2 linked regions of the Homo sapiens genome follow. The protein of the gene in region 2 interacts with the protein of the main gene of each other region in a pairwise test. Each region holds a gene or a part of one and is shown on either strand. Other genes may lie near its edges.

Evidence for each region.
Region 1: the proteins of SCG3 (region 2) and NCAM2 interact in a two-hybrid assay, tested with the Homo sapiens proteins (one large-scale study listed by BioGRID and IntAct).

Annotation. Positions count from the first base shown.
Region 1 is NC_000021.9:21,001,393-21,005,222, reverse strand, and holds part of NCAM2 (neural cell adhesion molecule 2 isoform 2 precursor), read right to left. Parts: intron 1-3,830. UniProt on the Homo sapiens protein: May play important roles in selective fasciculation and zone-to-zone projection of the primary olfactory axons.
Region 2 is NC_000015.10:51,687,834-51,691,663, forward strand, and holds part of SCG3 (secretogranin-3 isoform 1 precursor), read left to right. Parts: intron 1-426; coding exon 427-569; intron 570-1,385; coding exon 1,386-1,535; intron 1,536-3,830. UniProt on the Homo sapiens protein: Member of the granin protein family that regulates the biogenesis of secretory granules. Acts as a sorting receptor for intragranular proteins including chromogranin A/CHGA. May also play a role in angiogenesis.

The sequences.
Region 1 (3,830 bases), on a different chromosome or scaffold from region 2:
CTTAAAAACAAACCAAAATTTAACCATGTTACTCTCCTGCCCAAACAATGGCTCCAAAAGATTTACACTAGAGTCAAACCAGCTTGGCCTCCAGGTCACTCTATCTTCCACTTCCACCACTATTTCCAGAACTGAGTGCAGAGGCTCACCTTTCCAAACTGCTTAGTGAATCCTTGGATTCATTAAACTGGATTATTTCTATTCTCTCAACGCGCCCCTCCCTTCTTACAATTTGTTCACTCATTTTTTTTCTCCTTGTATTAATAATCTTCTCCATTTACTCTCACTATATTGAAGCCCTTTCTGTTTCACTGAATGGCAAGGTGATGTCCTGGTAAGAGGCTAGGCTTTGGACATGTCCCATATGCAAACCCTCATTTCCAAGCAGTACAATCTTAGTTATTTAAACTCCCTGTATCTCATGGCCCTCATGGATAAAGGAACGATAATCGTAATAATAACAAGCTAATAGAGGATTATGATAAGAGAGCCTGTCAGTTAGTAAACACAATCAATTTTAGCTCATTCTAGGCACTAAACCGCTAAGGACTCAGACTACTTAGTGTTTAATTAATTATATGACATATTTTGTCATTTTATAATATTTTGTTGAACAAGTTATATATCTCCCTCATGCTTATTTGGCTTTTTAAATTTATATTATTTGTTTTTGTAATTATCAACATTGAATTTTCCACACACATGCAAATTTTTAAACAAATGAATCAACAATATATCAAAAATAGGTATGCAACTGGAAGTTGGAAAATCTACTCCCAGTTCCAGATAACTACAAAAATAAGTGATATAGGCAAATCGGATCATTCTTCTGTACCTCAATTTCTTCATCCATAAAACAAAGCTAATTGTCTCTTGACTCATTGGTAATCATAAGTTATAAGGTGACTGAAAGCACTTCGCACAAGTGGTCGGTACTGTTAGAAGGTGCTGATAATATTCTCATTTTAAGGCCTCAAAAAGTGCTTGTTATTTGATTATCTGACAAAATGGCACAGAATTTAAATATATTTTACTTTGAGCTGAAGATATATTAGATTCATTTAAATAAAATCTATGAACAAGTTTGGTGTTAGGAGAACTGAAGAGTTTGGAGACTGGAGCTCTAGTAACTAACCTTTTTACTTTTCTGTTTGATCTTTAGTAAGTCATTTATCTTCATTATGTGCCCATCCTAAGCCTCTTGGTGTTTAACACCAGCCTGATGTTGGTCCATAGAAAGGATTCATGATACAAAAAAAAGCGCATCATTCCTCAAAACCTTTTACTGCCATCTGCTGGCAAATTGTAAAAATAAATATGTGTTGCATCACTAGGACAATAAGTGACGCCCCCTGGAGTTGTTCTTCACACAATCTACGCAACCATTCCTAGTAATGCTGTCTAATGAGGTGTCTGGGACAGGGCAGGTATTCTGTAAATGTTAGATAAATGAATAAATGATGAATGAGTCGCCCTTATCAATAACTTAAGTAATCTCTGTCCCCTTGATATTTTTTTCTAATCACAGAGCAGCTTATGATGATTTTTTAAAACTAAATAAATGTTTATAAGCCACAAATTAATCTGTATACACATTATTAAAAAATATAAACAAAGCCTAGCATAGTAGGGTTGACATTTGGTAAGGTGCCTGCCTACACATATTTATTGTTACAATTGCTCCTCATGGCCGAGCATCAAGGTCAACTGGCCAGATTTTATAATATCAAATTTTCAAATAAGCAAATAGTGGTTCTAAGAGCATAAGTTGCTTCTTCAAGGTTAAGAGACTCTTAGTAGCCTAGGTCTTCTGACTCCAAATCCAATGAATTTTCTTCATCCCTGTGAGTTGTAATAAATCAAATGGAGCCAAGAAAGATTTGATCAATGGACCTGAAATTCTTCAAACTATAATGTTTTGATTGCCATGCTTATAAATATTCTCAAAATTCCCCATTATCTTTCTTAATGATTTAAATTCAAACATCTTGATTTAAATTCAAGATGTTTCATTACTTCACAGCTTTCTAAAATGTCTGGTAATGTTTGATGGATCCTTAGTGGCACAAGTGAACATAGAAAACTAGGAAATATGTTGATATCTATTTGTGATTAGTACTCTTATTATAACTGTAAATTGTTAAAAGTTATTAAAATATTTAAAAGAGCACCAGAGAGAAGCACTTTTATTTGTTGAACAATTAGAGATAGCTTGGCTCTATAAAGTGCAGGAATTTTACATTTAATAAAAGCATAAAAGCACTGGTTGCATCTTAAAGTGTTCTCATATCATGTAATTTGGAAAATTAAAACAAATTTATAATCTTTTAAATAGGCCTATCCTCAGTTTAATTGGGATTGTATAAAGGGAACAATAAATTTAAAATTTAGGACAACAAAATTTGAAAAACAATGATAGTCCCTTCAGAAGTATATTCAAATTATTAAATTAATTTTGCACATATCAACACTCAAGGGATTAATTTCATTTTGGGGGGAAATAGGGCAATTTAGAATCACTCTATAGTTATTGAGCACTTTTCTTCATGCTCTCAAAAATTCATTGCTGTGAGAGATGACCCTGAAAAGAGATAAGTTACAATGATTTCCCAAATGTTAAAAGACAGAGAATGCAGGAGGACCAGTTCCAGAGTCTTCAGATTGTCGATCCTGTTACTATTTGCACTGCTTCCACACGAGGACAGGCAAAAACAAATTACACTGTTCAGCTTGGTTACTAGCCTCAATCTCTGTAGCTCATTTCTCAGTTTCATTGCAAACTAGTCCTATTTTTGAAAGAAGGCCATTCTATTTACAAAATCATATGAAGTCTAACTTTTGGTACTGAATGAGGTTCTTTTGTTCCATTAATTGCTTCTCTAGTAGGACAGTACCTCGGGGAGAAAATTAGCTCCCTGTGTCATTGAAAAGACTCATCTGACACTCTCGGGACCCACCAACTTCCCTTCTTGCTCTATGGGCTCCGATTCTGCATTAAAAGTGAGAAAATACTCTGCCTAACTCCTTTGATATGAAGTAGTGAGGGAAATCCTCTGGGTTACTCTGACAATAAAGATATTAATTTACATTAGCCTTTACATTACATCTTCCCCAAGTGCAAAAGAAGACCCAGTCGATTTAATAGAAACTTTGCACAGAGAGGCTGATATCAAAGAATTAGAGCACAGCAGATAGAAAAAGCATACGAGAGAGGCTGGAGCCATGTAACAGCCCCGACAGAAGATGAGTTTGTGGAGCTCTCTCCTGTAATCTTCAAACTAGTAGACACTCACACACCTGTGCTCTATTTTTAGAAGGTACATTGCTGTAATGTACAATGACTTACTAGCACTTCACCAAAGAGAATAACTGTAAGCAGATGACTGCTTTAACTGATCAACTGGGCAATTCACCCCTCCTTTCCTCACGATTTTGGCTTAGGTAAGTGTTCTAAGTGGTACGTTTGAACTGCATTGCAAGAGAGATGAATAGCATTATTCTTACTTTAGGTTTTAGTATAACAGTGCTTCTATCTTACATATGTGAACATCCAGGAAAAATGCTTATTAATCATACTTGTTTAATTTTTAAAGGAAGAAGGAAGTGGTTTCAAAAATGTAAAAACTCTCACGAAAGCAATCCATACATACAACAGTTTGGAAATTTGAATATACAAAGATCCAAACAGCAAATGCAGTTAATCAGAAACTGAAGTTATCACTTGAGATTTATGATTACAAAGCCTGTGACCAAGTTTTGAACACAAAGGAAAAATAATTGCAAAAGTTACAGAATTACAGCATTTTCTTTCATTGACAATTAAATTCAGA
Region 2 (3,830 bases):
TGGGGATATTACCAAACTATCTATTCCCTGTATGGAACTGGAATATCAAATCATACAATATATAGAAGGGTACATTGAATAATATGACATGCTATATAAATATGGCATACTATGTTAATAAAAAGTATAATATGGTTTGTATTATTGGTGATAACAATAAATGGAGACTACTTTTCTGTTGCCTTTAGCTTTTCCTTCCTCTTATAGTCACCTAAGAAAGTTTCAGAATGTCCATTATCATACTAAGTTTTTAACATGAAGACCAATTTTATTTCAAACCGAGGGTTTCTGTGGACCGAGAACCACCATAAATACATTTCAAACATATCTGAATATACAAAAGCGAAGTACAGATTATAAGTATAATATGATGCATGAAATAGATCTATGATCACTATGGTGTGAAGTTGTGGTCGTTCTGTCTAGATGATCCAGATGGTCTTCATCAACTAGACGGGACTCCTTTAACCGCTGAAGACATTGTCCATAAAATCGCTGCCAGGATTTATGAAGAAAATGACAGAGCCGTGTTTGACAAGATTGTTTCTAAACTACTTAATCTCGGCCTTGTAAGTCATTTGGTAGGAAATAAACCAAATTCCTAGTGCAGTTTAGAGTATGCCAAGAAGCCAAGTCACTTGCCTCAAGTAGCCAAGTGTTTATAATGTGTCTTCCTTCTACTAGGACCCGTAGGTTTTAAGGACAAGCAAAGCACCATTCTTTTTTTTCTAGGAGTTTATCATCCATCAGAAGAACTAGGCAAGTAGACACACGCCCAAAATGCCAGCTGCTTAAAAACCATAAGAGCCAGAGAATAGCTTATATCCAACTGGCAGTAAGGAAAGGCTTCAGAGGAAGAGGCGTATGAAGGAAGCTTAGAGGGATGGTTAGGATATAACCAGCAGAGGTAAAAGACATGTATGTGACAAAAAAAGAAATAACATGAGCAAAAGCATGTGATGTGTATTTTTGAAACTCCAGGTGATCTAATTTGAATCCACCTCAGCTTGGCTCTTCTGCCCTGACCTGGCCCTGACAGGCTTTATTAAGATGCTAATTTTGTAGGATGTCAAAGGTTATCTGACTATGACCCAAAGCTGTGGAGGGGCAATGCTCAGGGTGTTTCTCAAAATATGTGGTCCATGGGTTTCAACAGATAGAACTAACAGCTTGCATGGTGGGCCCGAAGATACTTCTTCCAGGAGTGCTGAGCAATCCCTATAACAGCCAGCATGTGGTGCAGGCGTAAGTGAGGGCTGTCTGAAAGATGGTTCAGAAGATTCCTCTTTAAAAAATACATGTTTGACTACAGTTTAGTCCACATTATTTTTTAATAACAAGACTGGGAATATAGCAGTTATATATGTTTTGCCTTTTTATGATAGATCACAGAAAGCCAAGCACATACACTGGAAGATGAAGTAGCAGAGGTTTTACAAAAATTAATCTCAAAGGAAGCCAACAATTATGAGGAGGATCCCAATAAGCCCACAAGCTGGACTGAGAATCAGGCTGGAAAAATACCAGAGAAAGTGGTATGTATGTGTATATATGCATATGCATGGGGGTGTGTGTGTGTGTGTGTGTGTGTGTGTGTGTACTTCTATCTGTATAATAATTGCCTTACTTGATACCAAAGAAGATTTGAGGTATGTGGCATTTTTAGCCCATTTATATTCAGGCCAGACATGTTGGCTCAAACCTGTAATCCCAGCACTTTGAGAGGCTGAGGTGGGAGTTGAGACCAGGAGTTCAAGACTAGACCTGGCAACATAATGAGACCCCCATCTCTACAAATAAAAATAATTAGCTGGGTGTGGTGGCACAAGCTTATAGTCTCAGCTACTCAGGAGGCTGAGAGGAAGATCGCCTGAGGCCAGGTGTTTGAGGTTGCAGTGAACTATGATTGCACCACTGCATACCGGTCTGGGTGACAGAGTGAGACCCTGTCTCAAAAAATTAATTAATTAATTAATTTAAAAATATGTATATACATAAAATACCAAAAAGTTAAAAGATATAAATGATCTCTACTCTGAAAATAATGTAAAGATTATGTTATATTCTATTATTTGGTAAAGATTACATCTTATACCCCACAGTAAAATAATACATAATAATATGTGAAGTAACAATATCACATAATAACATCTGTGTGTACAGTCCCAGTGAACTGCAAGCAAACATCTCACAGTTCTTTTGGTATCCAACATCTGTTCACAGCAGATGTCATCATCTGTGCCCAATCCCCCCACAAAGAAGTGGGTTGACTAGATCTTCTGCTACACCAGCTTTTGTGTTCCCCAGAGCTAGCTGCCTAATGCTGCCTCTCTGTTCTTGGCAATGCTCTTCCACCTGCTCCTTCCCCTTTTCATTGGTTTAGATGCCTATTTACCCAGGCTAATTTCATCCTTCCTTCCCTTTGTTGGACTCCTTGCGTCTTCATTTTTTCCTTAGCACCAACCAAGCTGTTGAGATCTTTCTCCCCACCTTGAATTCTCTTTAAAACTTTAGATGAAACTGACCATAAGGGGATATCAAATTCCTCATCTGTCCTTTGATTTTCCTCTGTAAAGCACCCAGACCCATGGCTCCTCATCTCCTCCAGCATCTTATCTCAAATACAAAGACTATAGAGGCTGATGGTTCTGTTTTAGAGAGGAGAGAAAATAGAAATTGGGTCTGGATTTCTTTTTTTTTTTTACTGGATAGCCTAAAAACTTTCCTCTGCTCTCCTTACTTCCAATCCTCACCAGCTGCCATCTTTTAAAGCAGCTTTTGAAGATTCACCCACTCAAAAAAAAAGTTCTAGATTTATCAAAAAAAAAAACCCTTATGACTTTTGCTCAAGCTTACCAGTCTGAGCTAAAATGGACACAGCTATTTCCATAATTCTTCATTCCCATTACATACTCCTATTCACCTATCTCTAAAATGTTCATATGCTTGACCTGTTTACTCATGTTACCTGAATGCATCAATGCAAATAAAACACAAATGAAATATTATTTCAACAAATATTTATTGAATACTAACTCTGTACCAAGCACTGGAAATACCATGCCTATTTAAAAAGACATAATCCCTGACTCATGAAGCTCAAAGTCTAGTGGAAGAGGTAGATCATGTTTAAATCATCATGTATTTTCATTACAATTGCATTAAGTGCTCTGAGGAAAGAAACATGGTTCTATGAGACCTCAAAAAAGGAGGCTGACCTGGACTTAGGCTCAGGAAATGCTTCCCTAAGGAAGTAACTTGAGCTGAGAACCGAAGATCAAATAGGAGTTAACTTGTGAACATGAGAGGCAGCACATAGAGAAGGATGTGTGGAGTATCCAAGCAACTGAAACAAGCACAGTGTTGCTGGCACAGAAAGAAAGAGCAAAAAGAGAAGAGACTGGGGAGGTGGACCCAGGCCAGACCATGCAGCGCCTTATGAGCCATGGATGGACTCTGATCTTTATTGTAAGAACCATGAGAATTTTCTGGTCCCCTGAAGAATTTTAAGCAAAGGAGTTACATGATCAGATTGTTAAAAAGATAACTCTGGCTATAATGTGGAAACGCAGTATTGGGCATAGATTTGGGGAGGGTGATGTTGCAGTTAGCAGGTGAGAAATGAAGGCTGCTTGGACTAGAGTGGCATAGTGGAGGGAGAAATGTGCAAATTTGGGATAAATTTTGAAAGTGGGGCCAACAAGGCTACTGATGGATTGGATGGGGGAAAAGGAAGAAGAGGCAAGAAAGGCTGTTAAATTTCTATCTAGTTCACTGAATGGAGAATGAACCATTTACTAAGATGCAAGTCACTGAACAAAAACCAGGTC